2 separate regions of the Homo sapiens genome follow, and region 2 is linked to region 1. Evidence: fine-mapped expression QTL. A gene starts in region 1. The other region holds a variant in brackets. All regions are shown on one strand. Distances are from middle to middle. Region 1 holds the start of ZFX (zinc finger protein X-linked). Region 2 has its middle 81 kb from the start of ZFX.

What was found. PIP is the estimated chance that this variant, and not a neighbour inherited with it, causes the effect. A credible set is the group of variants that fine-mapping cannot tell apart.
Region 2: its variant is the best candidate, but not a certain one, in a credible set for the expression of ZFX in fibroblasts (GTEx, PIP 0.64).

The regions. Positions count from the first base shown.
Region 1 is chrX:24,141,325-24,157,159 of GRCh38, forward strand. ZFX (zinc finger protein X-linked) reads left to right here and starts at 8,405. Exons shown (of 10, transcript NM_003410.4): 1 at 8,405-8,470; 2 at 10,367-10,476; 3 at 11,396-11,506. It overlaps ZFX-AS1 (ZFX antisense RNA 1), which reads right to left and starts at 8,330. Exons shown (of 3, transcript NR_046657.1): 1 at 8,231-8,330; 2 at 7,429-7,518; 3 at 4,901-5,127. RefSeq lists enhancers at 7,742-7,841, 8,048-8,861, 12,247-12,336 and silencers at 7,952-8,311, 8,372-8,781, 8,802-8,851, 8,902-9,411.
Region 2 is chrX:24,223,189-24,239,023 of GRCh38, forward strand. No RefSeq gene overlaps it. Among named protein-coding and RNA genes, the nearest start is that of ZFX, 81 kb to the left of the region's middle. RefSeq lists a cis regulatory region at 7,920-8,271 and enhancers at 12,041-12,150, 12,211-12,400. The variant C/A (reference allele first, on the strand shown) is at 8,436.

The sequences.
Region 1 (15,835 bases):
TCTTAAAAGGTGAACACCTGATATTCACAGTTTGTAAAATAGATAACAAGGAAATGATTTATAAATAACCTAAACTGCTAAAAACAAAATATCAATGAGTAAGTGCTATAGGTGAACTTCTTGTCTAACTTAAAATCTTAAAGTTATTTTTGCTGCTTCATTGGATGTCTGGGTCATTTCCCATTAAGAAAAGATTATGATATGGGGAAACATGTTTCTAAAAATCGTGGAATGGTTCTCATCTATAAAATGCTAATATGTGATAGGCAGCTCAGGATTTCTTGCTTCCCAGGTTTTCACTAAATTTAAAGTTACTAAGGAAAAGAATTCTAGTTAAGATATAATTCTGTATATAATATGTGCCCAAGAAGATGTGGTTTTATTGAGAGAAAGAATAATTTTATCTAATTCAGAAGTTATCTGAAGATTAATTCAAATTACAGACTTCAAAATGTTATTCAGGAAACAAGGTAGAAAGGAACCAGGAAGTAGAGGAGAGATGTGAAGAAAGTTATAGATATGAAGATGTATTTTTGGTAAGGAAGGTTTTAAAGAAAAGAAAATTTAGGACAAAAACAGAAAGTCGGTCGGGCGCAGTGGCTCACGCCTGTAATCCCAGCACTTTGGGAGGCCAAGGTGGGTGGATCATGAGGTCAGGAGATCAAGACCATCCTGGCTAACACGGTGAAACCCCGTCTCTACTAAAAATACAAAAAATTAGCTGGGTGTGGTGGCGGGCGCCTGTAGTCCCAGCTATTTGGGAGGCTGAGGCAGGAGAATGGTGTGAACCCGGGAGGCGGAAATTGCAGTGAGCTGAGATCGTGCCACTGCACTCCAGCCTGGGCAACAGAGCAAGACTCGTCTCAAAAACAAAACAAAACAAAACAAACAACAACAACCACAACAAAAAACCCAGAAAGTCCAAGCATGTACCAGCACTAAAGTACTTACTGGTCATGTGCCTACAGCAAATTTCTTAATTCCACAAAATGTATAGTGGTATTGGTAGATTTAAATATATTAATTTGGGGCCGGGTACAGTGGCTCATGCCTGTAATCCTAGCACTTTGGGAGGCTGAGGATCACCTGAGGTCAGGAGTTCGAGACCAGCCTGGCCAATATGGAGAAACTCTGTCTTTACTAAAAATACAAAAATTAGCTAGGTGTGGTGGTGTGCACCTGTAATCCCAGCTACTTGGGAGGCTGAGGCATGAGAATCACTTGAACCTGGCAACCAGAGGTTGCAGTGAGGTGTGATCCTGCCACTTCACTCCAGCCTGGGCGAAAGGGCGAAACTCCTGTCTCTAACTAACTAACTAACTAAATAAATAAAAAGACATTACTTTGGCTGGGTGTTGTGGCTCATGCCTGTAATCCCAGCACTTTGGGAGGCCAAGGCGGCGGGGGAGGGGGGGGGGGGTCTCTTTTGAGGCCAGGAGTTCGAGACCAGCCTGGGCAACATAGTGAGACCCTATCTCATTTAAAAAAAAAGTTCCCCAGGATTTTAATTGACTTTAAGATGTGCAACTAGAAAAACTACCTTAGACAAAATTAGTTAAAAGACAAGCAGCAGACAAGGAAATGATATTTGTAACATACATAATTAGCAAAGAAGTATATTCAGAATGTAGAAAGTATTTCTACAAATGAATAAGAACAATAGAAAAACAGACAAAGGTTATTCCAAGGCAATTTTCAGATGAGGAAAACTATAGCTAATAAAGAGTGAAAGATACCTTGAACTTACTTGTTATCAAGGAAATGTCAATTAAAACAATTTTACCATTTCTCACTTATTAGATTGTGAAAAAGTATGAGCACATCAAGAGTTACGAAGGAGTAGGGAATTGGGAATTCTCATATTCTGCTGGAGGGAATGTTTATTAGGATAGTCATTTTGGAGAGTAATATTGAAAATGTGCCATATTCTGAAATTTTACTTGTTTATACTCCAAGAAAAACTCTTATACATGTGGGCAAGAGGCATTTACAAGGATGTACTAATATTTCTTAAAGTGTTATTGGTGTGTGGATGACTTGTCTGTGTATCACCAAGACTCCTGGTTAAACTGGCCCTATCCCATACCTACTGTATCAGTCAGGGTTCTCCAGAGAGAAACAGAGTCAATAAGATATATACATAGATATATAAGAGGAGATTTATTATGAGAATTGTCTTATGTGATTATGGAGGCCAAGCAGTCTTACAGTCTGCCTTATGCAAGCTGGAGAACAAGGCAAACTGGTGGTGTAATTTGATCTGAGTCCAAAGGCCTGAAAACCAGGAGCTCCAATGTCCCAGGGCAGCTCAAGAAGAGAATTCACCTTTCCTCTGAATTTTTGTTCTATTTAGGCCCTCAATGGATTGGACGATGTTCACCCGCGTTGGTAACGGCAGATCTTTTTTTTTTGAGATGGAGTCTCACTCTGTCACCCAGGCTGGAGTACAGTGGTACAATCTCAGTTCACTGCAACCTCTGCCTCCTGGGCTCAAGTGACCCTCCTGCCTCAGCCTCCTGAGTAGCTGGGGTTACAGGCACTCACCACCACGCCTGGCTAATTTTTTGTATTTTTAGTAGAGATGGGGTTTCACCATGTTGGCCAGGCTGGTCTCAAACTCCTGACCTCGTGATCCGCCCCACCTCGGCCTCCCAAAGTGCTAGGATAACAGGTGTGAGCCGCTGTGCCTGGCCGATAAGGACTAGTTTTTAGACATAATCACACCATCATTATATCTAAATGAATTAACATTACAATAATTTGTTTATATGAGCATGTATCCAGTCAGTATTGACAAAATCCAGTGTTCATATTTCTCCAATTGTCTCATATTTTTAGTTTTTTGTTTTTATTTATTTATTTATTTATTTATTTATTTATTTATTTATTTTTTGAGACAGGGTCTCATTCTGTCTCCCAGGCTGGAGTGCAGCGGCATGATCTCAGCTCACTGCAGCCTCAACCTCCCGGGCTCAAGCGATCCTCCCAACCTCTGCTTCTTGAGTAGCTGGGACTACAGGAGCCCCACCGTGCCTGGCTAATTTTTTTGTACTTGTAGAGGTGGGGTTCCATCATGTTGTCCAGGCTAGTCTTGAACTCCTGAGCTCACTGGCCTCCCAAAGTGCTAGGATTACAGCATGCGCCACCGCACCTTACCTACAGTTTGTTTGAATCAAGATTGAAATGAGCCAGGTGCCGTGGCTTGTGCCTGTAATCCCCCCACTTTGGGAGGCCGACGCAGGTGGATCACTTGAGTCCAGTTCAAGACCAGCCTGGGCAACATGGCAAAACCCTGTCTCTACGAAAAATACGAAAATTACCTGGGTGTGCTGGTGTGCACCTGCAGTCCCAGCTACTCAAGAGGCTGAGGTGGAAGGATCACTTGAGCCTGGGAGGTCGAGGCTGCAGTGTGCCGTGATTGCACTACTACACTCCAGCCTGGGCAACAGAGAGAGACCCTGCCACAAGAAAAAAAAATGAAATGAAGTTCATACACTGCCATTGATGAACATGTCTTTTAAGTCTTTTCTAATCTATTGATTCCCCTCCTATTTTTTTCTAATAAGTTGTTTGTTGAAGAAATGTATTTGTTAAATGTTGAATTTTTCTTATAATTTGTTTTCTTATAATTTATTTGTTTATTCTTATCTTTCATTTGTCCTTTAGAGTTTCTCATCAACTGGATTTTGTCGACCGCATCCCTGTGGTTTCATTGATATGTTTCTCTGTTTCCTGTATTTCCTGTAAACTGGTAGTTAGAGCTAGAAGGTTGATCAAACTCAGGTTCGATTTTTTTTTTTTTTTTTTTTTGTCTAGTAGCATTTTGTCCTTCCATCTTGAGGCATGTTTCTGGTTTTCTCTCTGCTTAGCAGCCACTGATGATCATTGCCAAGGTCCATTAATTCATTAGATGTTGCAAAATGGTGATATTTTGCAGTCGACAAAATCCAAAATGGTGATATTCTAATTTCATCAGGACTTCTTCATGTATTAGTTGGAATACTTCTATTAAAAGGAAGGTCCCTTCGTCAACTATTTGGTTACTCTGAGGAGTAGATCTTACAGGCTTCATCTCTTTTCCTTCACTAGTTTTCAAAATATTGAGTTGGTTCCCTAGCATTCTCCAAAAGTGATCACTTAAAAAATTGAAATATGACTCTTATACTATCAAATTCACCCTTTTAAAGCATACATACGTCACTAATTTCTAGTACATTTACAAAGTTGTGCAACCATCACCACTAGTTGATCATTTTTAAAGTCTCATAAATTCATTAACATATCCACTATGTTTCACTCCATAGCAATTTTTTTTGACATCCAAATTTTCTTAATGTTAGACAACCTAGTAAGCTTGGACACTTTCTTCTTTTGCTTTCTGCTATAAGGAGATGTTCCTGGCTTATCTTATACTTTCCTGCTCCAGCCCTGGAATCAATCACTTCTCCCTTTCCTTTGGTGGGAAACTGTAGAGGCCCCAACTTGGACACCAGGGGTGCTCACTGCTACTGCTCATTGTTTCTAGGCCTCTATATTGATTTTTTTATCTCTTTAGTGGAGCTAGTTTGTTTGCTGTGCCCTGTGATTTATAATCCATGAAGAATTTGGCTATTATTTTCAGGAATTAAACAATGTCTTGTTCGACTAATGACTCATGTAAAAAGCACTGCTTGAAAATCACCTATTTGCCAGTCATTGTTTATTTTAAAATTATTCTCCTTGGGGAGAGTGTGTGGCTTAAGGGCTCAGATGAAAAATTCTTACTTGGCATTAATTATGGCCAACTGAATTCCAACAGAAGATGCAACTTGCTCACGCTAAGTATAACCTAAGTATCAGGTGTCAGATAAATGGTTAATTTTTGTAGGGCATGCTTAGTTCAATAAAACTAGGGCCTTTCTAGGGGAAGATAAATATTTTTTAATGTTTGGGATACAAAAAAAAAAAAAGAATTACCACAACTTTATTCAAGAAGGTCTACATTTTCTCATAAGCCAATAATTTATTGCTTCTTATTTGAATTCCCATCAGTCTCCGATGTGGAGTGAAAATCAACAGCTTCTTTTCTGACTAATCTTTCTCTGGAAAAATGATTGAAAGGCCTTCTATCGTTTCTGGCTCAAGGACCTATAAACATGTCAGAGATTTTTAGTTAATTTATTAAAACACTGTCAAAACCTTGAGTAAATGCTTTTAACTATCTGATGTACATTAACAGCTCTGAAGGAACAAATACATTTTAGCACGTAATCAAAATTCCTTTTACTGCTTTGAAACCAGCTATTTTGTATTCATAGCATTCTCTTTTGAAATGTTCTGCTCTCGACCTCCCTAGATAAAATTTCCTTTTATTATGTTTACTTAAGTGAGAAAATGAAAGTACTTAGGAATGTTTTTATTTTGCCTTACACAGCCTCCTTATTCGAGTTCCCCAAGGGCAAGCACATCTTTGTTACTTCCTGTGCCCAGAATTCTAAAGGTCCCTAATACGAAAACAATTATCAAGGCAAGATAGGCTGCAGTAGGTCCTTTAAGTGCAAGATGTCTGGTGCTTAATTACCAAATGCTTTCAAGGATCTTAGGTGTCCTCAAGGTCCTATTGTGAGTACTTTCATAAAATGCATTTTGTATTTTGTCACATCAAACAATTTCTGATCTCTGCTGTTTACACTTCCTTTTCATCTTCACTTTATCATGAGTATAATACTAAGTGTACTTCTAGTGAAATGATTTTTACCATTGTTCTTTTACCAGTTAAACAATGTTCTTTACAGACTTCCATAAATGGGCTTAAAGTACAACTTTACCTTTTTTTAACTAAAAAAAATATAGTTGACCTTATCTGTATAGTCATCTATAAAATAACTGGACTTTATAAAGTTTGCTGGACTTTAATAAAGGTTTATCTAATCTAATAGAACTAGGCCATCCTTTCTTTGTTTCCCACCAAAGTTAACAGTCTCTTCCTGTATGAAAAGTAATGACAAAGGGCTCTTTGAAAGTATCAATCCCTAAACTACTTGTGATCTTTTAAACTGAGAAAACTTCTTTTTCTTTCATGCTCCTTGGACACTGTTTTCTTAAGTGCTTTACACTGGTGGATGTATAAGTATTTTTGATGGTAATTATGGAAAAACTAACAAGAATGGTGACATTAGGTTTTTCTGTCTTGAACATGCTGCTTACAGTTGCATGGATGAAGTGAGGCTCTATTCTTCTTCTTTTTTTTTTTTTTTAATAGAGACGAGGTCTCACCATGTTACCCAGGCTAGTCTTGAACTCCTGGGCTCAAGTGATCCTCTCGCCTCGGCCTCCCAAAGTGCTGTGATTACAGGACTGAACCAGGGAACCTGGCCTCCATTCTTGCCATACCGTAGCATCACACTGAGGCCCTTGGAAAGTACTTAAACGCTGATTATCAATGTTTTGAAATATTAATGTGGGCGGCCGGGCACGGTGGCTCACGCCTGTAATCCCAGCACTTTGGGAGGCCGAGGCGGGTGGATTACCTGAGGTCAGGAGTTGGAGACCAGCCTGGCCAACATGGTGAAACCCCATCTCTACTAAAAAAATAGAAAAATTAGCCAGGCGTGGTGGCAAGTGCCTGTAATCCCAGCTACTCGGGAGGCTGAGGCAGGAGAATCGCTTGAACCCCGAAGGCAGAGGTTCAGTGAGCCAAGATCACGCCATTGCACTCCAGTCTGGGAGTGCAAGAAATATTAATGTGGGCACACAAGCTATTTCTCATTTTTTTTTATTGAAACAACATTGCTTAGTTTCATTTACCTTTCTGTGAAATGTCTTTCTGTGAAAGTCTATCACAGCCTGATGTAATTTTTATAAACAATGAATACATGCTGTTACTATTTTTGAAAGGAAATTTAATCGCTTGGAAAAATTCAGACTAAAGCCCCGAGAGGAAAATTATCATCCAGTGCATGCTCAGAGATTTCTTCTTACTCTACTTTTGTTTTTCCTTTTTGAAAGCATTTGTGATTGAGAGATGTCTGAGGGAAGGGACAAATTGCATTCTGGGAGTTTTAAAGAGTTATGTCAGGCAACTAAAATACGTGGCCTCTGTATTTAAAGAGATTTCACACCAGTATACTATTTGCTTTATAATTTTTGTGTTTCTTATTGTTTAAAAATGCCTTTAACATTTAGTGCTGTGTTAAAGGATAGCATGCCAGATTCCAGATTAATGTAAAGACTCCACTATTTAACTTTTCCCTAGTAACTTTAAAACAGAGTTTGGGTTCCAAGTTCAGCATGGAAAGATAGCATAAACATTTAAACTAAGTAAAGTGCGAAATACACATTTTTGAAGTTGGTAAGTGCTGTTTAATCATTTTCCCCTTCTCTCCCAAGTCTTTTGAAACTTCAAAAGGCTTGTTTAAGCAGTGTGTTTAAAAAAAAAAAAATCCATACCCAATTGGGCTCCTCTCTATTAAGGAATGTGGAAAATTCATGATTTATGAAACGATGACACCAGTCTTACATTTCACAGGCTCCCAAGCTCTGAAACACGGGTACATAGGAAAATACACAGAAAATTCCTGTTCTTTGCAACGTGCGAAACGTTTCAAAATGCAACTTTGCTCATCTCCCTCCCCCGTACAAACTAATAAAATCAGTTTGGCTCTGACTGCTTATTTTTAAAAAGTAGACGGCCTGGTAGGTGCTCTAGGGATAACCCTTCTCCCCCCACTCCACCCCCCTTCCCGCACACCCATTTAGACTGGCAAGCCCGTTTTCATTTTATTTCAAAGATTTTTTTTTTTTAAGCGAAGGCAGGGGACGGCGGGGGTTGCTAAATTTATCTTCCTCCCCAGCCACGGGGATGAAGAAAACACATTTACTGCGGGCGGGGGTCTGAGGGCCTGCAAACAACTCGAGCTGGAGCCTCGGCCAGGACCGGCGCGAGAGGCGGTAGGTCTCCAGGGAGGCCCCCGGGGGGCGGCCGCGGCCCACGGGACATGGTGGGGGGCGGCCGGGCCGCCTGCCTCTCCGCGGGGTCGGCCGACCGCGGCCCCGCGCGGGCTTTACGGCCGAGGCGGCGGCGGCAGCGGCGCGTGTGTGGCGGCGGCGGGCGGGAGCGCGGAGGAGGTGGAAAGAAGGGGGGCGCTGTCACGGAGACTCCGGCCGCCGGAGACCCCGCCGCAGCGAGGCCACTGGGCTCCCCGGTCGCGGGGCGGGAGCGGCGCCGACACGGGGTGCCAGGAGGACCCACCGGGCGGAGGAGGGGGCCTGTCTACCCTTCCGCATTTTCCTGGGTCTCTCTCCCGGGCGGTGACGTGACGTGCTGACGGCGGGCCCGTGCCGGGGAGCTGGGCCGCTTTTTGTCAGCTCCGAGCTCGGCCCCTCCTCCCTCCCTCCGCCCGCCCCACCAGCCGGAGCCCGGCCCAGTGCTCCAGAGAAAGGCCGGCCTGCAGCACCCGCCACCGTCGCCGGCCGCCCGCACGTCCGTCCGGTGAGTCCCGGGTGCCGCCGCGGCCGCGGGGCCTAGTGCGCGCACAGCGGCCTGGTCTCGGCCTGGTCGGCGGCCCGCAAGGCGCCCTCCCGCGCTAGGCCGGGCGGCGTGGCGCGCGGCGCCGAGCAGGCCCCGAGGAGGCCGCAGTTAGGCCCGGGGAGGAGCCCGGCTGCCCCGAGCGGCGGCGGAGGCGCGCTCCGTAAGCGGGCGGGGGTTGGGGGAGGGTCGCCCGGTTGTGCCGGAGGCGGTCGAGGGGCCCCGGGTCGGCTCCGCGGCCGACCTGGGGCACCGCGCCGGGGTGAGGCCTGGCGAGGAGGCGAAGGCTGCAGGCGTGAGGTGAAGGCCGCAGGCCGGCCGGGCCGATTTTCGCTATGTAAATATCGGTGAGGGGGGGGGAGGGACGGGGGACAAGATGGCGGCGGCTCGGCGCCTGCTGCAGGGGACGATAGAGGGGGTTGCCGGGAGGGGGAGCCGCCATCTTGGAGGCGGTGTCTGGAGAGAAAATTCCGCTACAGCCCGTGAGGGGGGGTGGGAGAGCGGGCGGCGGCGGCAGCGGCGCCGGTGACGGGCCCCGGAGGCCCGGCGCGGCGGCGTGTGCGCGCGGAGGGGCGTGCTCGCTCCCCGTGGCGGCCATTGCCCTTGCCGCCATGATGAGCGCTCGGGCTCCAGGCGCTCGGCGGCAGCGCCACCTTCCTGCCTTGCCTCCCGCAGCCCCGTGACTGGCTGCAGTTTCCGCTGCGTTTCAGCTGAGCTGCCGCAGGCGGCCACCGCCGCCGCCCGGACGCCGGGACCGTTTCACCCTCAGCGCCCCTGGCCCTGCGCCTTCCCCCGCGCCTGTAGCCACCCGAGGGCAGTCGGGGCAGGTGGCATTCCGGACACCTGGGCTTACCAGGGCATACGGGACCCCAGGAAATGTTATTTTTGCTTAAGTCAAATCATATGTGGCTGCTAAGGTGCTTTCGATGCAGTTGTTTTTCCAACAATCTTTGCCGCCCCGAGTATCTGAATAAAGGAAGAAAAATAAAGATTGATGGGAAAGTTTTTGCCATTCTTTTGTCCTATAGGGAAAAAAATTGCACAACACGAGAGCGGAGGAATAAAATTTTGAATCATTCGTACTCATTTATGTGGAAACAACTTTCTTGAAAAACGATTTAAGTAGTGATCTGTTGGTGGTATTTTTTTAAATCGAGGAATAAGGGCAGACTTTTTTATTTTCTTATTGGAGGACAACTTAGTGTGGTGCATATTTATTGTGCATTTGCCTGTCATGGTATTTCGATTTTTCATTTGTGAAGTTTTAAGGCGGAGTTTCATCCCCTAACGTACTTTTTTGATTGCACACTGTGCAACTTTCTTGATAAACTCGGAGCCTACTGTTAGCGATGCACCGTGCTAGATGCTAAGAAACATTAAAAAGGTTCTTGTAATGCAGACGGTGGCTGCAAGAAGTCTCATGTTTAGAGGTAGGTGGGGCAAGGTGAAATGCAGTAAAGTGAGAGGTACAACTAATTACTGGGATTTCCGAGGGAAGCAAGGTTGCCATTGGAGGATCAGGGAGGGACGGGTTCCTGAAGTATTAATAGGTGGCATTTTGAGAAGGTTACCGAGGGATGGGTAGGACTTTGTTAGGTAGAGGTGGAGGTGGAGAAAGGACGTTTCAAGGGTGAAGCTTCTTCAGTAAACAGTAAGTATTTACAGTTTGGCAAAAGTGGATGGTATAGGTAGGGGAGTGGTGGGAATTCAGGCTAGAAAAGTTAGATTGCAGAAGGGCTTGCTTGCCAGGTGGAGGGGCTTATACTCAATGGGGTAGGCAGCGGGGGTGCCCTCAACTAGAAGAGTGATGGCACACCTGAGCTGCACCTTGTTATTTACTTATTTTTTATTTTGAGACAGGTTCTTGCTATATTGCCCCAGGCTGGTCTCGAACTCCTGGGCTCAAGCCGTTCTCCCGCCTCCCACTGCCCGCCTGTCACTGCCGTCTGTTCCCTGAGCTGTGCTTTACGGTACTTAGTAGTTCCATTGGACTAGGAAAAGTTTCAAAGTTGAAAAATAATGAGAGTAGTAAGTTGATCAGTGTTTTCATTATCAGAACGATTACAAGAATGTTCAGAAGTTAAGCAAATTTTGCTACTTTTGGAACGATGCGTCTCTATTAAGACAGCTGCTCCTTTTTTCTATCCTGATTTCTCATCCGAAATAATCTTTTGCTCAGAGTTGTCAGAATTTCTATGGTACACAAATAGGGAGGGGTTTCTAACATTTCATTTACCATGGTTGAAAAGTACAGGACTAGTGCTGTGGGTTATTTGACGAAAATGAGAAATGAGTATTCCCGTGGTAATTTTTTTTTTTTTTTGAGACTGAATCTCACTCTGTCGCCCAGGCTGGAGTGCAGTGGTGTGATCTTGGCTCATTGCAACCTCTGCCTCCCGGGTTCAAGTAATTCTCCTGCCTCAGCCTCCCGAGTAGCTGGGACTACAGGACCCTGCCACCATGCCTGGTTAATTTTTGTATTTTTAGTAGAGACAGGGTTTCATGTTGGCCAGGCTGGTCTCGAACTCCTGACCTCAAGTGATCTGCCTGCCTTGACCTCCCAAAGTGCTGGGATTACAGGCATGAACCACCGTGCCCTGCCTGTTTCCTAGAATTTTATGATGGAAACCTTTAGGTGGCATAGATACCCATTTTCAGTTTTTCCATTTTTCTAGACTGTAACAGGTCGTGAGCAGCGGTGCTCCATGAAAGGGCTGGAGGGAATGAGAGTCTCATGTTTATTATAAAGGGCTATGGTTTAGAAAAGTTCGAGAAACAGTGCATTGCATGAGGCTGACTAGAAGCAAGTTGAGAAGGCGGGCTGTGGTTGTTGAGGTGTTAAGGGTAAACATAAACTTAGAAGAACCAGGTGCTTTTATATTTTGACAGCTGGGAAAGACATAGAAGAACTATTAAGAAGATAGAATTGTTTTGCTGCGCAGTACAGCAACAGTGGATGTTCAAGATTAAGATTAGAGTCAAGTTGTGTGATTAAGACAGGTAAGTGTGTAGTTTAGTTTCAATTAGAAATGGTTAAATATAAAATTATTTTTGCCTGAAAGGGTAGACCTTGAAACTTTGGAAAACTGACTGGTGGAACACCTTCGAACCCAACCACCCTGGATGAATAAGGTGTTAGTTTTTAATTTCTGTGTATTTTTCAGATAGATGCAGATTTCTTTTTTTAAAAAAACATGCTCACGAATGTGTTACAAATTTTTTTTTCCACATTGCTTTTTGTAAATGCTTACTCTCATTGCAAATGCTTACTCTCACTTAACCCATTTAGACTGATTCTGTCACTGATAATCTTCTTTGTATTATTTGTTCTTGTGTACACTGGCAATTCCAAACTTTTTTTCACTCTTAAAACTACTCAACGGGTCCTTGAAATCTCTCATCTTCAGCAAAGATTACCCAGTCTTTCACTTCACTGAGAAGGGTAGATGGCCATCTGATAAAGAGCCAAGTCTCCCCTCCCTTCCCCTTCATGCCTTTCCTGTCTTCACCTAGGCCTTCCTCCTTTTGCCGCAGGGGAGGTTGCAGGAGGGATTGCTGTCTCACAAGCCCCACTGCTGCTCTGAGCCTGCTCTTCACCCTGGCTGCCTCCTTAGGGACCAAGCTCTGTGCGTGATGCCGTCTCTTGCATCATTAACCTCTCTTTACAAATATTCCTAGGTTTGCTCATCTTACAAAAGCCTCACCTGTCTTCACTTTCTTTGCACCCCACTTATTCTTAAATCCAGTATTACCCAAATTGGGAAACTTGCACAGCATGTTAACAGGTGTGTTATATAAAAGTGCTCTGTGTTTCAGAAACTCTCTGTGCCTTCTCTGTCTTCTATGGTGGGATTCCCCTTAATTTATCATTTAATGTATTATATTTGAACTGTGTGTTTATATTTTTTCCTTCTACACTGTGAATATAGAGACAAGTTCTGATTTATCTTTGTCTCCAAGCAGTACCTGGCATATGGACCATTATCTCTCAAAGCAATAATTTCGGTTACTGGGTACAGAGAATTCTACGTAGTTAATAGTTTTCAGCTGTTCAAAAATCAGGTATCCAGTCAGTGTGTTTTTTGACTCAGGGACATACATATTAAGGCACACTTATTAGGGCACCAGGTCAAGGAGTAACCCCTCCCACCACCCCTTATCTGATTGGAATATGGCCAGCCTATTCTTATTCCTGCCAAGTTATTTTTCCAGACAACATTTTATAAAACCCAGGTATCTTGTAATTGTATTTTACTCAAAGGAAGTATACTCTAAGGAAATTGTGTGGCCTTGAGGTACACAGCCATTAGGCATTTAAAAAATATATTTAAAAAGTTTTATGGAATATTTTTAAATTACTGAAAATCAGAATCACCCAGATTTAAGAGATCTTAATATTTTGCTACATATTTGATTCATATCTTTTTGTTGTTTAAAGAAATAAAATCTCACAGATTCAAAGGGTCCCTCCCCATCCCCTTCCTGTCTTCTTTTCTCCAGAAGTAACCACCTGTCCCAATATGTATGTACCAAAACAATATCAGGTATTGCTTGTGTGTTTAACTTTACATAAACAGTATCATAACCATACCTTATATATTATTTTTACTTAACAGTGTGTTTTTGAGATTTATCCATGTAATGTGTTTAGTCCAGCAGTTTTCAAAGTGTGCTGCAGGGATTCCTGGGGATCCCTAAGATTCTTTCAGGGGGTCCATGAGGTCAAAACTATTTTCATAATACTTTTTATTTGCTCTTTTCACCCACATTTTCCTGTACACTATAGGAATACTGTACAGAGGCTGCATGACATATGATGTCATAATAGATAGAATGCAGAAACACTTACGGGAATCCAGCCGGTTTCTATTAAGCCAGACATGAAAGAGATTTGCAAAAATGTAAAACAGTGCCACTTGTTTTACTATTTTTTTTTGTTTAGAAAAATAGTTATTTTAAAATAAATATGCAGCCATAAAAAAGAACGAGGTCGTGTCTTTTGCGGAAACATGGATGGAGCTGGAGGCTATTATCCTTAGCAAACTAACGCAGGAACAGAAAACCAAATACCGAATATTCTCACATACAGGTGGGAGCTAACTGATGAACACAAAGAAGGAAACGAGACACTGGGGGTCTACTAGAGGGTGAAGGGAGGGAGGAGAGAGAGGATCAGAAGAGATAACTATTGGGTACTGGGCTTAAATACCTGGGTGATGAAATAATCTGTACAATAAACCCCCGTGACAGAAGTTTACCCATGTGACAAACCTGCACATGTACTCCCGAACCTAAAATAAGAGTTTTAAAAAAATCTCAACAAAAGGGAAAAAAGGAATAAAGAAAAAAAGTATTTTTATGGGTTAATAAGTGCTTTTAAATATCTCAGTTTTAATTTCTAGTATGATAAACATCTATAGATACGACCCACGTAAAAACTCTTTGTGGTTCTTAATTTTTGTTTTTTGTTTTGTTTTTTAAATTTTATTGTGATCCTTAATTTTTAAGAGTGCAAAGGAGTCCTGAGACCACGAAGTTTGAAAACTACTGATTCCATTCATTTTATTTGTATTTCAGTGTATAAATAAATATACTGTGGTTTATTTATCTTTTCTTCTTGGAGGGACCGATAGAAACTGTTTGCAGTTTCTGAATTTCAAACACTACTGCTATGAACATCCTTATACATGGTTTGTCTTTCTTGGGATTATATACATATAGTAGAAGTAGAATTGCTTCATTTAAGAAGTCTGTGCATTATCAACTTTACTGGGAATTGCCAAAATGGCAAATTGTCTTCTATTTGACACTCCCGCTGTGTTTGATCCCGTTTCTCCAAATCACTGCCAAAGGATTAGATTTTGCAATTTTTTCCCAATCTGTTGGGTATAAATGGCATCTCCTTGCTATTTTCATTTTGCATTTCTAAGATTACTAGTGAGGTTGACCTTTTTTCCCCATGTATTTATCGGCCATCAGAGTTTTCTATTAATTGCTTGTGCATACCTTTGGTTCATTTTTCTGTTGGATTGTTGCCTCCTCCTTATTGGTATATGGGTTTTATTTATTTATTTATTTATTTGAGATGGAGTCTTGCTCTGTTGCCCAGGCTGGAGTGCAGTGGCACGTGGTCTGGGCTCACTGTAGCCTCTGCCTCCCAGGTTCAAGCAATTGTCCTGCCTCAGCCTCCTGAGTAGCTGGGATAACAGACGCCTGCCACCATGCCCGGTTAATTTTTGTGCTTTAAGTAGAGACGGGGTTTCACCATGTTGGCCAGGCTTGTCTCGAACTCCTGACCTCAAGTGATCGGCCCTCCTTGGCCTCTGAAAGTGCTGGGATTACAGGTGTGAGCCACTGTGGCTGGCTGGTTTATGGGTTTTATATTCTGGATACTAATTTGTGATTATATACACTGAAAATATCTTTTCCTGGTCTGTGGCTTGGCTTTTAGCTCTGTTTGTGGAAAGTTTTTTATGTAGGACTTCATAATATGATGGTAGCCAGTTCTCAGTTTTTTTCATTTATGGCTTGTGTTTTCTTATGTCTTCAATACATTCTTCCCTTACCCCAAGGTTGTAATGATACTGTGCTGTTTCATATTTAGGTCGTTAATTCACCGGAGTTTTTTGTATATTGTGTGACGTAGGAATCTAATATCTTTTTCATGTGGATTTATCAAATGGTTCAGCGTTTCTCCCCACTGATTTATAATGCAACTCCTGAGATATATCATATTCCCACATATGTATCTGTTTTTAGTTTCTCTCTTTTGGTTTCATTGGTCTGTTTGCCTATCTCTATATCTATACTATCCTGATTTAATAATAGCCTTTTTTTTTTTGGAGACGGAGTTTTGCTCTGTCGCCCAGGCTGGAGTGCAGTGGTGCGATCTCAGCTCACTGCAAGCTTCACCTCCTGGGCTCACGCCATTCTCCTGCCTCAGCCTCCCGAGTAGCTGGGACTACAGGCGCCCGCAACCACGCCCGGCTAATTTTTTGTATTTTTAGTAGAGACGGGGTTTCACCGTGTTAGCCAGGATGGTCTCGATCTCCTGACCTCATGATCTGCCCACCTCGGCCTCTCAAAGTGCTGGGATTACAGGCGTGAGCCACTGTGCCCGGCCTTAATAATAGCTTTATAATTAAAACTGAGTATATCTTCTTTTCCTTCAGGATTATTTTAGCTGTTTTCCTCCCTTTGCTTATTTTGGGGTTAGTTTGTCATTTTCTGTGAAAACTGTTGGATTTTTATATTTGCCTCAAATTTATAGAATAAATACATAGATTCATGTAGATAAATGCTAATAGAGCTGGGATTTGAATTCTGGGT
Region 2 (15,835 bases), 82 kb after region 1:
AGGATGTGCAGCAATGAGAACACGGTAATATTGGCACACTTTTAAGTTTTGCCAATTTTGTGCATGTAAAAGAATATTATATTGAGATTTTAATGAACATATCCCTAATTATGAATAATATTGAGCATCTTTTCACATATTTATTGGTTATTCACATTTCCTCTTTTGTGACAAGCCTATATTGGTTTTTTTTTTGGCCTATTTTCTATGAATGGCCCATTTCTATTGGATCACTTACATTTTTCTTGTTGATCCATAAACATCTATATCTCTATCTATCTATCTATCTATCTATCTATCTATCTATCTATCATCTATTTTAAGAGACAAGGTCTCACTATGTTGCCCAGGCTGATCTCGAACTCCTGGGCTCAATCAAAGAGCTGGGATCACAGGTGTGAGCCACCATGCCTGGCCCCTTTATATAGTCTTGATATTAGTCCTTTGTCAGTTATATGTAATTTTATTTATTTAGTTAGTTAGTTTTTGAGTCAGGGCCTTGCTCTGTCGCCCAGGCTGGATGGAGTGCGGTGACGCAATCTTGGCTCACTGCAACATCTACCTCCTGGGCTCAACCACCCCTCCCACCTCAGCCTCCCGAGTAGCTGGGACCACAGGTGCATGCCACTACGCCTGGCTAATTTTTCTATTTTTTTCTTTTTTGGTAGAGATGGGGTTTTGCCGTGTTGCCCCGGCTGGTCTCAGACTCCTGGGCTCAAGTGATCCTCTTGCCTTGGCCTCCCAAAGTGCTGTACAGGTATGAGCCACCACACCTGGCCATACATGTAATTTTAAAATCTCTGTAAATATCTTCTCTTGGTCTGTGGCTTGCCATTTTACTCTATTGTGTCTTTTGATTAACTTAAGTTCATCATTATAACCTGGTAAAATTGGTATCTTTTCCTTATGATTAATGCTTTATGTGTCTTAAGAAATCCTTCCTGATAGTAATGAGGTTATTCTCTGATATTAGTTTTTTAAAGCTCTGTAGTTTGACTTTTCATACTTATGTCTTTATCCTGAAACGGATTCGATGTGGATTATAGTGTGAGTTAAGCATTCACTTTAACGTTTTTCAACTTCAACTTCATACAGTTCAACTCTTTATTGAAAAAATCAATACTTGCCCACTAATTTGCAGAGCCAGCTCCATGATATATAAAATATTCCTGTGTAAGTGGATCTGCTTCTAGGATCTCTGTTTTGTTCCATTTGTCATTTGTCTTTCTCTGTAACTGTGCCCCATAACTTTTTTTGCAGGGGCGGGGGAGGATGGAGTCTCACTCTGTCCCCCAGGCCAGAGTGCAGTGGTGTAATCTCAGCTCACTGCAACCTCCACTTCCCGGGTTCAAGTGATTCTCCTTCCTCAGCCTCCCGAGTAGCTGGGACTACAGGCACGCACCGCCACCCCCAGCTAATTTTTGTGTTTTTAGTAGAGACAGGGTTTTATCATGTTGGCCAGGCTGGTCTCGAACTCCTGGCCTTAAGTGATCTACCCGCCTCAGCCTCCCAAAGTGCTGGGATTACAGGCATGAGCTAGTGCACCTGGCCCCATCATGGCTTTTTAAAACAATCTTTACTGGGATATAATTCACGCACCGTAAAATCCAACCATTTAAGGTATACAATTCAAATTTTAGTATATTCACAGAATTGTCCAACCATCAACATGATCTAAGTTTAGAATATGTCATCACTCTCAAAAGAAATTTCATACCCAGTGCCGGTTGCGGTGGCTCACGCCTGTAATCCCAGCACTTTGGGATGCTGAGGCGGGCAGATCACCTGAGGTCAGGAGTTCGAGACCAGCCTTCCCAACATGGCAAAACCCCTCTCTACTAAAAATACAACAAATTAGCCAGGTATGGTGGTGGGCATCTGTAATCCCAGCTACTCAGGAGGCTGAGGCAGGAGAATCGCTTGAACCTGGGAGGTGGAAGTTGCAGTAAGCTGAGATCACACCATTGCACTCCAGCCTGGGTGAGAAGAGCAAAACACCGTCTCCAAATAAAAAATAATAATAATAAAAAAGAAATTTCATACCCATAAGCAGTCACTTCCCACTCCCCCCATCCTCCTAGCCTCTGACATCCACTAGTTTACCTTTAGTCTCTATAGGTTTGCTATGCTGGTCACTTCATATAAATGGAATCATAAAATATATGCTGTTTTTGACTGGCTTTTTTCACTTAGCACAATGTTTTCAAGTGTCATCCATGTTGTAGCATGTCTCAGTACTTTGTTTCTTTTTAATGGCCAAATAATATTCCATTGTATGGATATACCACATTTTGTTTATCCATTCTTCCATCAGTTGATGGACATTTGAGTTGTCCCACCTTTTGGCTATTATGAATAATGCTGCTGTAAGTATTTGTGTACAAGTTTTTGTGTGTACATGTTTTCACTTCTCTTGGCCATGAACCTAGAGGTGAAGTTGCTGACTCATATAGTACCTTGACTTTTAACATTTTTAGCAATTACCAGACTATTTTCCAAAACAGTTGCATGATTTTACATTCCCATCAGCAGTGTATGAGGGTGGAAGGATCACTTGAGCCTGGGAAATCAAGGCTGCAGTAAGCCGTGACTGCACCACTGCACCACTGCACCCCAGCATGGGCGACAGAGTGAGACCCTGTCTCAAAAAAAGAAAAAAAGGGAGAAATATTTGTTAGGCCTTCACATTGTATCCTGTATGTCTCTTGCACTTTTCAAAACATATTTTCCATGTTTTAGGTCTCTCCATGCTTCATTCTGGATAGTTTCTTTTAACCTGCCTTCTAGTTCAGTAATTTCATTATGGGCTACATATCATCTCTTAACTCTGCTACTCCTTTTTTTTCCCTTCTTAGTCTTGTTTCCTGCACTCAGAACCATTATTTTGAGATTCATCTCTATTGCTGCATATATCAATAGTTTATTCCTTTTAATTGCTGAGTATTATTCCATTGTATGGATACAGCACAATCTGCCCATTCACCTCTTGATAGCCATTTGGATTGTTCACAGTTTGGGGCTATTACATATAAAACTGCCATGAACATTTATATATTTGTGTGGACATATGTTTTCAATTCTTTGGGGTAGGTGGAATGACTAGTTTGTGTGGTAGGTATATATTTAATATTTTAGACATAGCCAAACTTTCCTACATAGTTGTACCATTTTACAATTCCACCAGCAGTGTTAAGAGTTGCAGTTGCTCTACATCCTCGCCAGCACTTGTTATGATCAGTCTTTTAAACATTTTAGCCATTTTAGGGTGTACGTTGTGATATCTCATTGTGTTTCCATTTTACTTTTAAATAATAAAGAGTAAAATTGACCTATTTGGTGTTCAGGTCTGTATTTAGAAGATAACACATAGTAAAATTGATGCTTGTTTTGGTGTAAAGTTCTATGAGTTTTAACACATGCATAGATTTATATAGCCTCTACCACAAACTGGATACGGAATTCCATCATCCCCCAAATCTCCCTTAGGCTGTGTCTTAGTAATTACACCCTCATCCCACCTCTAAGCCCTGGCAAACAGTCATCTGTTCTTCATCACTATAGTTTTCCCTTTCCCAGAATGTCATATCAATGAAATCATACATCTTTGAGGGTGTCTTTCATTCAGCATAGTGTCATTAAGATTCATCTATGTAGTTGCATGTATCAATGGTCTGTTCCTTCTTATTGTTCAGTAGTAGTCCATTATAACGCTATACCACAATTGTTTATTCATTCACCCATTGAAAGGCATTTGGTCACATAAAAAGCTTCTGCACAGCAAAGGAAACAATCAGCAAAGTGAAGAGACAACCCACAGAATGGGAGAAAATATTTGCAAACTACCCATGTGACAAGGGATTAATAGCCAGAATATATAAGGAGCTCAAACAACTATATAGGAAAAAGTCTAATAATCCTATCAAAAAATGGGCAGAAGATTTGAATAGACATTTCTCAAAAGACGACATACAAATGGCAGACAGGCATCTGAAAAGGTGCTCAATATCACTGATCATCAGAGAAATGCAAATAAAAACTACAATGAGATATTACCTCACCTCAGTTAAAATGGCTTATATTCGGCCGGGCGCGGTGGCTCACGCCTGTAATCCCAGCACTTTGGGATGCTGAGGTGGGCGGATCACCTGAGGTCGGAAGTTTGAGACCAGCCTGACCAACATGGAGAAACCCAGTCTCTACTAAAAATACAAAATTAGCCGGGCTTAGTGGCAGGCGCCTGTAGTCCCCGCTACTCAGGAGGCTGAGGCAGGAGAATCACTTGAACCCCAGAGGCGGAGGTTGTGATGAGCCGAGATCGTGCCATTGCACTCCAGCCTGGGCAACAAGAGTGAAACTCCATCTCAAAAAAAAAAAAAAAAAAAGCTTATATTCAAAAGACAGGCAATAACACATGCGGGTGAGGACATGGAGAAAAGGGAACCCTCATACACTGTTGGTGGGAACATAAATTAGTACAACCACTATGGAGAACAGTTTGGAAGTTCCTCAAAAGACCAAAAATAGAGATCCAGCAATGGATCTCTACCATATGATCCAGCAATCCCACTGCTGGGTATATACCCAAAAGAAAGGAAATCCGTACATCAAAGATATATCTGCACTCCCACGTTTGTTGCAGCACTGTTCAGAACAGCTAAGATTTGGAAGTAACCTAAGTGTCCATCAACAGGTGAATGGGTAAAGAAAATGTAGTACATATACACAATGGAGTACTATTCAGCCATAAAAAAGAATGAATTCCTATCATTTGCAGCAACATGGGTGGAACTGGAGATCATAATGTTAAGTGAAATAATCCAGGCACAGAAAGACAAACATTGCATGTTATTTGTAAGATCTAAAAATCAAAACAATTGAACTCATGGACATAGAGAATAGAAGGATGGTTACCAGAGGCTGGGAATGGGAAGTGGGGGGATTGGGAGGAAGGTGGGGATGGTTAATAGGTACAAAAAATAGATAGTTAGAAAGAATGAATAAGACATACTATTTGACTGCACAACAGGGTGACTGTAGTCAACAATAACTTAATGAACATTTTAAAATAATTAAAAGAGTGTAATTGGGTTGTTTGTAACTTAAAGGATAAAGTCTTGAGGGGATGGATGCCCCATTCTCCGTGATGTGCTTATTTCACATTGCATGCCTGTATCAAGACATCTCACGTACCCCACAAATATATACATCTACTGTGTACCCACAAAAATGAAAAATTAAAACATTTTTTTAAAAAAGTAAAAAAAAGAAAGGCATTTGGGTTTCCTTTTTTTTCACAATTATGGTTTGAGCTGCTATAAACATTTACGTAAAGGTTTTTGTGCACATAAGTTTTCATTTATGCAGGGTAAATACATGGAAGTGGGATGGCTGGGTAGTGTGGTAAGTATATATTCAACTTTTTAAGAAACTGTCAAAATATTTCCTAGAGTAGCTGTACCATATGTATTCTAATCAGAAATATATGAGAGTTCCAGTGGTTCTGCATCCTTGTCAGCACTTGGTATTGTCAGTTTTCTTTTCTTTTTTAGCCTTTTTTTTTTTTTTGAAAGAGGGTCTCACTCTGTTGCCCAGGCTGGAGTGCAGTGGCATCCAGCTCACGATGGTCTCTGCCTCCTGGGTTCAAGTGATCCTCCCTGCCTCAGCCTCCCGAGTAGCTGGGTCTACAGGCACGCACCACCATGCTTGGCTAATTTTTTGGTATTTTTTTTAGAGACAGGTTTCGCCATATTGCCCAGGCTGGTCTCGAACTCCTGAGCTCAGATGATCCACCTGCCTTGACCTCCCAAAGTGCTGGGATTACAGGCATGAGCCACCACACCTGGCCTTTTTTAGCCATTTTAATGTGCATTTCCCTAATGACTAATAATGTTGGGCATCTTTTCATATGCTCACTTATCACATATCATTTTTGGTTTAATACATTTTGCTCACTTTTCAATAGGCTTTTTTTTTTTTTACTGTTATGAGTTTATTATCTGGATACAAATCCTTTGTTGGGTATATGATTTGCAAATGTTTTCTTCTAGTTTGTATCTTGCAAAAGTTTTGGCTATTATTAATCTGTTATTAATTCTAGCCAGTATATTTCATCTTGGACATTGTAATTCTCATCTCTTGAAGTTTGATTTGGGTCTTTAAAATAAATCTTCCATGTCTTAACTTTTTGAACATATGAAATACTGTTATAACTCTTAATGTTCCTGTCTACTAATTCTAACATCCGTTCATTTAGGGGTTGGTTTTGATTGATTTATTCCCCACCCACCCCCCTATTTTGGGTTGTATCTTCCTTCTTTCCGTGCATAGTAATTTTTTTTTTTTTTTTGAGACAAGGTTTTGCTCTGTCACCCAGGCTGGAGTGCAGTGGCGTGATCGTGACTCATTGCAGTCTTGACCTCCCAGGCACAAGCGATCCCATCTCAGCCTCCTGAGTAGCTGAGACCACATACATGTGCCATCACACCTGGCTAATTTTTAAAATTTTTGGTAGAGATGAGGTCTCACTATGTTGCCCAGGCTGGTTCTCGAACTCCTGGGCTCAAGCGAGCCTCCCACCCCAGCCTCTCAAAGTGTTGGGATTACAGGCATGAGCCACAGGCGCGTGCCTGACCTGTGCCTAATAATTTTGGATTGGATACCAGACGTTATGAATTTTACCTTGCTGAATGTTTGATAATTTTTATTCCCATAAACATTCTTGAGCTTTATTCTGGGACACAGTTAAATTACTTGGAAACAGTTTGATCCTTTCAGGTCTTGCTTTTAAAATCTGTTAGGCAGGACCAGAATCCTTTAGGATTAATTATTCCCACAACTGACCCAAGACTCTTCTGCGTACTCTACCAAATTCCCTGTGCATTTTGAGGTTTTCCAGTCTCGTTAGTGGAAACAGTCCGTTTCCACTTGGCCCTGTGTAAATTCTCAGCACCATTCCCTCTAATCTCTTCAGCTGGTTCATTCCCTGGCCTTGGGTAGTTTCCAAACATGCTTGGACTGATTAGTACTCTGTTGAATACTCAAGGGGAACCCTCTGCAGATATCTGGAGTTTTCTCTGTCTTTGCAGTTTCCTCCTCTCTGGTACTCATTCCTGCAGATTCTAGCTGCTTTGTCACCCCAGATTCTCAGTTTGTCTCCTCAACTCAGGCTGTTTGTTAGGTTATGCAGGGTTCTCCTTCCCCGCACCGTGACCTGGAAACTCTTTCAAGGCAGTAATGCAGGGCAATTTTAGGGTTTACCTTGTTTCCAAGCTCTCTCCATGACTGTTATTTGTTGCTTTAATGTTCAGTGTCTTGTAACCTATTGTTTCATCCCCCCCCCACCATCTTTTTGGTTGTTTTGGATGGGAGGATAAAGGTAATCTTTTTAGTCGATCTTGGCCAGAATCATCCTAATAGTTTTTCATTGAATGTTTGGTATTGCACATGAAAAATTATAGACATAATTTGATTCCCTGTACAGTGTTTTTTCTTTGTTTTTGAGACAGTGTTGCTCTGTCGCCTAGGTTGGAGTTCAGTGGTGTGATCTCTGCTCACTGCAACCTCTGCCTCCCAGGTTCAAGCAATTATCAGATTATCTCCTGCCTCAGCCTCATCAGTAGCTGGGACTACAGGCACATGCCACCATGCCCGGCTAATTTTTTTTGTTGTTGTTGTTGTTATTTTTAGTAGAGATGGGGTTTCACCATGTTGGCCAGGCTGGTCTCGAACTCCTGACCTCAGATGATCTGCCTGTCTTGGCCTCCCAAAGTGCTGGGATTACAGGTGTGAGCCACCACGCCCTGCCTACGGTGTTATTTTCTTATAGTTTTATTTTAGCTTCTGGCTGTCAGTTGAAAGTGGGCCAGTTCTCCTTAATCTACTCAGGGATTGAGCTGATTTGAATCTGGGAATAAGTCTTTTTGAGGGCTTATTCACTTCTGATTCACCAGTTTTCTAAATATTTGGCCTTTCAGATATTCCAGCTGAAAGCATGGAGTGTTTATGAGGGTCTCTTCCTTGGTGGACTCTAAAGTCTAATTTCCTCCCTATCCCTTTGAGACTGTTGGAAGCACTGCACAGCTCCTCCGTATATATGAGTCATCACTTTCTGCTCAGCTTTTCAGCCTTTCAGCTGTGTGTGTGTGTGTGTGTGTGTGTGTTTTAAATCAGTAGATGACTCGATGGAAAAGCAGCACTGAATGTTGGTCTCATCTTTGTATGTTTCTCATCTATCTTTGCTCTCACGTCCTCATTGTACTAGTTCTGATACCTTCAAATAGATCTTAAACATCTTGTCTAGTTTTTCTGATTGTGCTTAGTGAGAGAGTTGGTATGCAAAAAGTTAGTCTACTTCTGCCTGAAACAGAAAACCTACCTTTCATTTTTTGTTGTTGGTTATTTTACTTCATCAAAGTGTTTGGAATTGGCATTCTATT[C/A]TATGGTCATAATTTACAGAGTTGTTTAGTGGTAGTTCTAAATGTATATGGTTACACTGTTCACCACCAGCCTTTTCACCATTGCAGTGCTGTTTTTGAGCTGTTTATTTTGATTCAGGATTTAGTTGGCTGGATTTTATTCACAAAAATTTTTCTCTGGGATCCTCCTTCCCCTGTTCCAACTGGCTTGATTTCTCTCCAGGTTGATTTGTGCAGCTGCTATCCTTGAATTACTTATTATTTTCCTAGTTATATTTACTATTTCTTTAACATTATATCTTTCTCTTTCTAGGCTTACATAGTCACATGCTGGAACACATCCTCTAAATTCCTGAAAAGGGTTTAAGAAGATAAATATTAAGTCCATGCATGTCTCAATACGTCTTTCTTCTGTTCTCACTCTTGACAGTTGCAGCTATATTAGTGCCTTTCTTATTACATTTAGAGGTACTGATGAGAATTCTAAGCATAATCTCATTCCATTTTATTTTGAAGCAGTATGTCTTTTCTCTTTGGTAACTTTATGAATTTTATTCTTTATTCTTGGTGTCCTGATATTTCCCCATGATAGACCCAGATATATTTTTAAAAACTGATCTTCCTTGCATTTGAGCGACTCTTTAAATATGAAAACTGGTGTCTTGTTTTCACCTCTGGGGAATTTTCATCTCATTTCAAAAATGATTTTCTCCCCTCTCTTTTCTTTAGCTTCTCTGGAACTTTCATCAGATCAATGTTGATACATCTGGATCTTTGTTTTCTAACTTTTCTTGGACATTTTTGTCTTTGTCTCTTTTGTTCCCCTTTTGCACTTTTTTTTTTTGAGATGGAGTTTTGCTCTTATTGCCCAGGGTGGAGTGCAATGGCGTGATCTTGGCTCACTGCAACCTCCGCCTCCCAGGTTCAAGTGATTCTCCTGCCTCAGCCTCCCAAGTAGCTGGGATTACAGGCATGTACCACCATGCCTGGCTAATTTTGTATATTTAGTAAAGATGGGGTTTCACTATGTTGGTCAGGTTGGTCTTGAACTCCAAAACTTCAGGTGATCCACCCATCTCGGCCTCCCAAAGTTCTGCAATTACAGGTGTGAGCCACCGTGCCCAGCCTGCACTGTGTTTTTAAAAATCACTCAGAAAAATTTTTTCTCCAGCTAGAGTTTTTTGATATTCAATTTTTAATTTTCTAATCTTTCACTGGTTTGTTTCTTCACAGCCAGTTCTTGTTTTATGAATGTGATCACCTCTTTAATCTTTCTCCAGATATTAATTATAATGGATTTTAAGTCATCTTCTGTTTTCCATATATACCCCTAATAATTTTAATGTAAATCAAGACCATATGTAATCCATTTATTGCAAGGCATCCATCCAAAGAAATCTAGGTCAGCAGCTAAAATTCATGACAAGTAATTTGCAGCATTTTGTTTCTTGAGAAGAGCCAAAGAGGAAATGTATTTTTAATGCCTAACATCTTAAATATTTCTTCTCCCCAAATATACCCTACACCTCTGGCAATAGAGCTCTGAAAATCTCTCCAACTAGCACTTTTCAGCCCTACCCAAGTCCCCTCTAATATCTAGTCCATACAGCTTCTATTTTTTCCCTTTTGCCCATCTTTTTCCAACTTGGAATCTCTGATACCTTCAAATAGATCTTAAACATCTTATCTAGTTTTTTTGAGACAGGGTCTGTCACCAAGGCTGGAGTGTAGTGGCATGATCATGGCTCACTGCAACCTCTGCCTCCTGGGCTCAAGCGATCCTCCCATCTCAGCCTCCCAGGTCACTGGGAATACAGACGTGCACCACCACGCCCGGCTTTTTTTGCCATGTTGCCTAGTCTGGTCTCGAACTCCTGGGCTCAAGTGATCTGCCTGCCTCAGCCTCCCAACCAAAGTGCTGAGACTACAGGCATGAGCCACCGTGCCTGGCCTTATTTCCTTTTTTTTTTTTAATTTCTCCTTGTGGGTTCTCTACAACAAAGGAAACCTAGGAGCTGTAACATGAAGAATTTTCCTCCCTTAGAAAATGAAGATAGTGAGGGAAGATTGTGAATTTTTGTCCCTGTTAGGCTTTTCCCAAGGAAGTATTTGAAAGTCTCTCTAAACAGAATCCTGGTATTTTATGGTAGCACCCAGAGACAACTTTTCTTCCAGTTCAATCTTTATCCTTTTCCTTTTGGGGTGAATTTAATTACTTATTTTTTGAAATCCTGGAGGTCCTGCCAGGTCGAGCTTGACTCAATCATGATTCCTTCTCACAAACTTCAGAGCCAGGGAGTGGCAGACACGCCACAGTTTCTGCCCTACATAATATGAAAAGGAGGATATGCTCACCAAGCGGTTATCTTTGTGTTTGTAGACTGCTGCTGCATGACCTTCTTTCTTTGCGGCTTGAAGCAAACCCAGGACACACAGAGCCTCCCAATGTTTGGAGCTAGCCCTTTAGCTTTCATTTTGCATGTGTCTGGGTTTCCAAAATGCCAGGGTTATGAGTAGCCAAAAACTCAGTGCTACCCAGTTTTTTTTTTTTTTTGAGATGGAGTCTTGCTCTGTTGCCCAGGCTGGAGTGCAGTGGCATGATCTCAGCTTACTGCAACCTCTGCCTCCTGGATTCAAGCAATTCTTCTGCCTCAGCATCCTGAGTAGCTGGGATTACAGGCACGCACCACCACACCTGGCTAACTTTTGTATTTTTAGTAGAGGCAGGGTTTCACCATGTTGGTCAGGCTGGTCTCAAATTCTTATCTCATGATCTGCCCGCCTCGGCCTCCCAAAGTGCTGGGATTACAGGTGTGAGCTACCGCATCCGACCTGTGCTACCCCACTTCTAACTCATTCTGTTCAGCTGAAAGCAAACTAGTGGGTACAGTCTTGTAACTGAACTTTTGGGAGGGGGGCCCTATTCAGGTTTCAGACTTTGCTCATGCAAAGCACTGGCATCTTGCTCATCCTGGGTACATCTTGTATTTGGAATCACTTCTCTCACACAGATCTCCACCAGAATCCTCCATCTGAGCTTTATCATGTGATATGGTTTGGCTGTGTCCCCACCCAAATCTCATCTTGATTTGTAGCTCCCATAATTCCCACGTGTTGTCGGAGGGACATAATTGGAGATAATTGAATCACGGGGGCAGTTTCCCCCATACTGTTCTCATGGTAGTGAATAAGTCTTATGAGATCTGATGGTTTTGTAAGGGGAAACCCCTTTTGCTTGGCTCTCATTTCTCTCGTCTGCTGCCATGTAAGATGTGCCTTTCACCTTCTGCCATGATTGTGGAACTGTGAGTCCATTAAACCTCTTTTTCTTTATAAATTACCCAGTCTCGGGTATGTCTTTATCAGCAGGGGAAAACAGACTAATACATCATGTAAACTTGCTTTTGGAGAACAGATATGGTAACCTTTTCCTCTCCCTCAGATCAGCTACACCAACTATGAGAATTCTGAAGATTATGATGAAGTCCATGATAACTGAATACATCTTGAGTATAAATTAGGATTACAGGCCCTTCATCTACATCAGAGGTTCTTAGCTCTAGCTACATGCTAGACTCACCTGGGATCCTTTCAAAGTTCCTCTTTGCAGGACTCAGGCCAGGCCAATTGAAGGTGAATCTCTTGGGAGGAGGGCAGGCATCAGTATAAAAAGCTCCCCAGATGACTCTGTGCAGCCGAGGTTGAGAGCTGCTGCTCCTGGCGCCTCTGGCCCTTCTAGCCTTGCTGGCTTCTTCCCCAGTAGATGCCTGCTGTGATTGTTGTTCCAATCTGAAGAAACAGAGGTGCCCTTTCTCCTTTCTCACCAACCTGTGCTGATAAATTGGGCCTGTGAATTTCAGTAGTTGTCCATTCTGCTATTCTCTCTAGGGGTATAAAGCAGCCCTCAAAAACCAAAACCAAAACCAAAACCAATTTTGGTGACCTAAGGTTCATGAACAACTCTCACACTGGAGTCACTTAATTGATGTTCACTTCTTGGGGCTTCCACCTGTTTACTATTTCATTGGCACCTCTAATCACAGATCAAGCCTTCTGATCTGGTACCTTAAGAGGTACTTCTTACTAATTTGTTTCTGGTAAGCCTATGTTGTCACAAGCCTCACAGAGGCTACTAAGTCCCAGGGAGCTGATAGCATTGGTGGAGCCCAATAGGACCCTGAGTGAGTGCAGGCATATTGGTCATGGATCCCCTGTCCCCATCCAGAAGCAACTTCAATTTCTTAAGAAACTGGCCATCTTGCAAGGGTGGCTCACAACTGTAATCCCAGCACTTTGGGAGGCCAAGGCAGACGGATCACTTGAGATCAGGATTTTGAGACCAGCCTGGGCAACATAGTGAAACCCTATCTCTACTAAAAATACAAAAATTAGCCAGGTGTGGTGGTACACACCTGTGGTCCACCTAATTGGGAGGCTGAGGTGGGAGGATCACTTGACCCCAGAAAGTCAAGGCTGCAGTGAGCCTGGATCATGCGGCTGTACTCCAGCCTGGGTGACAGAAAGATACTATGACTCAAAAAAATAAAAATAAGGGGCAAGGCGCAGTGGCTCAAGCCTGTAATCCCAGCACTTTGGGAGGCCGAGGTGGGCAGATCACGAGGTCAGGAGATCGAGATCATCCTGGCTAACACGGTGAAACCCCGTCTCTACTAAAAATACAAAAAATTAGCTGGGCATGGTGGCGGGCACCTGTAGTCCCAGCTACTCAGGAGGCTGAGGCAGGAGAATGGTGTGAACCCGGGAGGCGGAGCTTGCAGTGAGCCGAGATCGTGCCACTGCACTCCAGCCTGGGCGACAGAGCGAGACTCCGTCTCAAAAAAAATAAATAAATAAAAATAAATAAATAAGAATAAGACCGGGTGTGGTGTGGCTCACACCTGTAATCTCAGCACTTTGGGAGGCCGAGGAGGGCGAATCACCTTGAGGTCAGGAGTTTGAGACTAGCCTGACCAACATGGTGAAACCCCGTCTATACTAAAAATACAAAAAATAAATTAGCTGGTCATGGTGGCACAAGCCTATAATCCCAGCTACTTGGGAGGCTGAGGAAGGAGAATCGCTTGAACACAGGAGGCAGAGGTTGCAGTGAGCTGAGATCTCACCACTGCACTCCAGCCTTAGTGACAGAGTGAGACTCCATCAAAAAAAACAATAAAAATAAAAAATTTGGTCATTGGTGGAGATTAGGTTTTACTTTTATTTATTTTTTGAGACAGAGTCTCGCTCTGTCGCCCAGGCTGGAGTGCAGTGGTGCGATCTCGGCTCACTGCAAGCTCCACCTCCCGGGTTCACGCCATTCTCCTGCCTCAGCCTCCCGAGTAGCTGGGACTACAGGCGCCCACCACCATGCCCGGCTAATTTTTTGTATTTTTAGTAGAGACGGGGTTTCACCGTGTTAGCCAGGATGGTCTCAATCTCCTGCCCTCATGATCCGCCCACCTCGGCCTCCCAAAGTGCTGGGATTACAGGCGTGAGCCACCGCGCCCAACTGAGATTAGGTGTTAAAAAGACAATGGATTTTCTCGATTTGGTAGACTTACATAATATCACGTATGTTTGGTTTTCTCTCTGGTATATACAATTCAAACAGCATATTCTCACCAGATGTACCACTCTGATACCAGACTTCACAATGTCTCTCTCTTGGGCTATCTGGGGTTAATGTCAGAATTATCATGGCTTGGAGCTGGGCAGCTCCTATTTTTTGACATCATTGTTGGTGAAACATGGTGAAAATGTTTTCTGGTTCAGGTTTAGCATGAAAGGTTTTTTTTTTTTTTTTTTGTTAAAATAAGGCAGGGTCTCACTGTTTCGCCCAGGCTAGAGTGCAGTGGTGAGATCACGGCTAACCACAGCCTTGACCTCCTGGGTTCAAGCAATCTGCCTGCCTCAGCCTCCCAAGTAGCTGGGACTACAGGTGTGCACCACCATGCCCGGCTAATTTTTTATTATTTTGCTTACAGAGGTGGAGTTTCACCATGTTTCCCAGGCTGGTCTCGAACTCCTGGGCTCAAGTGATCCTCCTGCCTCAGCCTCTCAAAGTGTTGGGATTACAGGTGTGAGCCACGACACCCAGCCAGCATGCAACTTTTAATCTGAAGTCCATCTGAATATCAGACCTTAAACCCCAAAGATGGTTTACAGCACTCCAAATATAACCCAGGCCCTATGCCCCTTGCTTTGCTGGAGAAGGGACAGGACAGTCAAGAACTATCCCCTGCATGACCTTTTCCTGTCTTTGTCTTCTACTTGGGAAAAAGCAAAGTATTCTGGGTGATTAGAGAGGTAAAACGTGTAGCATGCCCACACCCTCAGCCAAGGAAACATACGAAGTTGGTTATTTCCTTCATCTTCTGTGCCATATGGAGTCTAAAGATCTTGGAAGGTTGGCCCTTATCCATTCAACTCATCTTATGTACCTGTGTCCGGTCCTTCAGTCAGTAGAGAGTGACCTCCTTGAACCATTTCCTTCCCATCTTTGTCCCTTTCCCCATATTCCTTAGTCTTTTTATCTGTTATCCTCTTTCATCTTCCTGTCTCCTCTTCTGTCATGGACTGTCAGTTACATTGTAGCCCATCCACTTTCCCTCTTGGATAGAGGTGAGGGGGAGAAACCTTTAGGGTCCTGAAGGTGGAAGTCGACAGTGGAAGAGTTCATCGTGATGCCGTGACTTGTGGGTGAAATAGTTATAAAGCAATCAGACATTTCTGTGAAGGAGAACTTCCTGTTGGTGTATATTTTGAACTTAATTATGCTGAAAGAGTTCGTGTCTCCTTCTCAACATTTAATTAGTTTTTTTTTTTTGAGATGGGGTCTCACTATATTAAGCCCAGGCTGTTTCAAACCCCTGGCCTCAAGTAATCCTCCCATCTTGGCCTCCCAAAATGCTGGGATTACAGGTGTGATCAGTTACGTTTTTAAAAAGCCCTCTTATCACCCCTAACTTGGGATGTGGCAGGCTCCTTGAGGTGGAGTGGAAAGAAAAAAAACACACAAAACTATCTCTCCATAAGCTGTTCCTTGTGTTGGTTGAGCTTGGTGCCTGTCTTTCGTGGCAATGGATTTCTTCAGGTGTCCTGTGGTTTTTGTCTGTGTGCTCCTTTTGCTGTGTGAGATCTTCTGCTTTTGCGGCTACGGATGCTGGCTCTGATGGAGAAGCTTGTTTTGAGGATTATGGGGTTGAGTGGAGTGGGGCTGCCTTTGTCACTTGGGGAATGGTGGCCCCGGGGGCAGTTTTAGGCAAAGAGTAAGCACAAGCCCTTAGAGAAAATGGGAGAGAGGAGAGGGGGCGAAGAGGGGGCTGAGCGGGGGCGGAGGTGGGAGGGTAGGGAAAGGGAGAGAAAGAGGGAGAGAAAGAGAGAGAATATTCCACATGTAGTCTTCAAATTAACCACCTGGA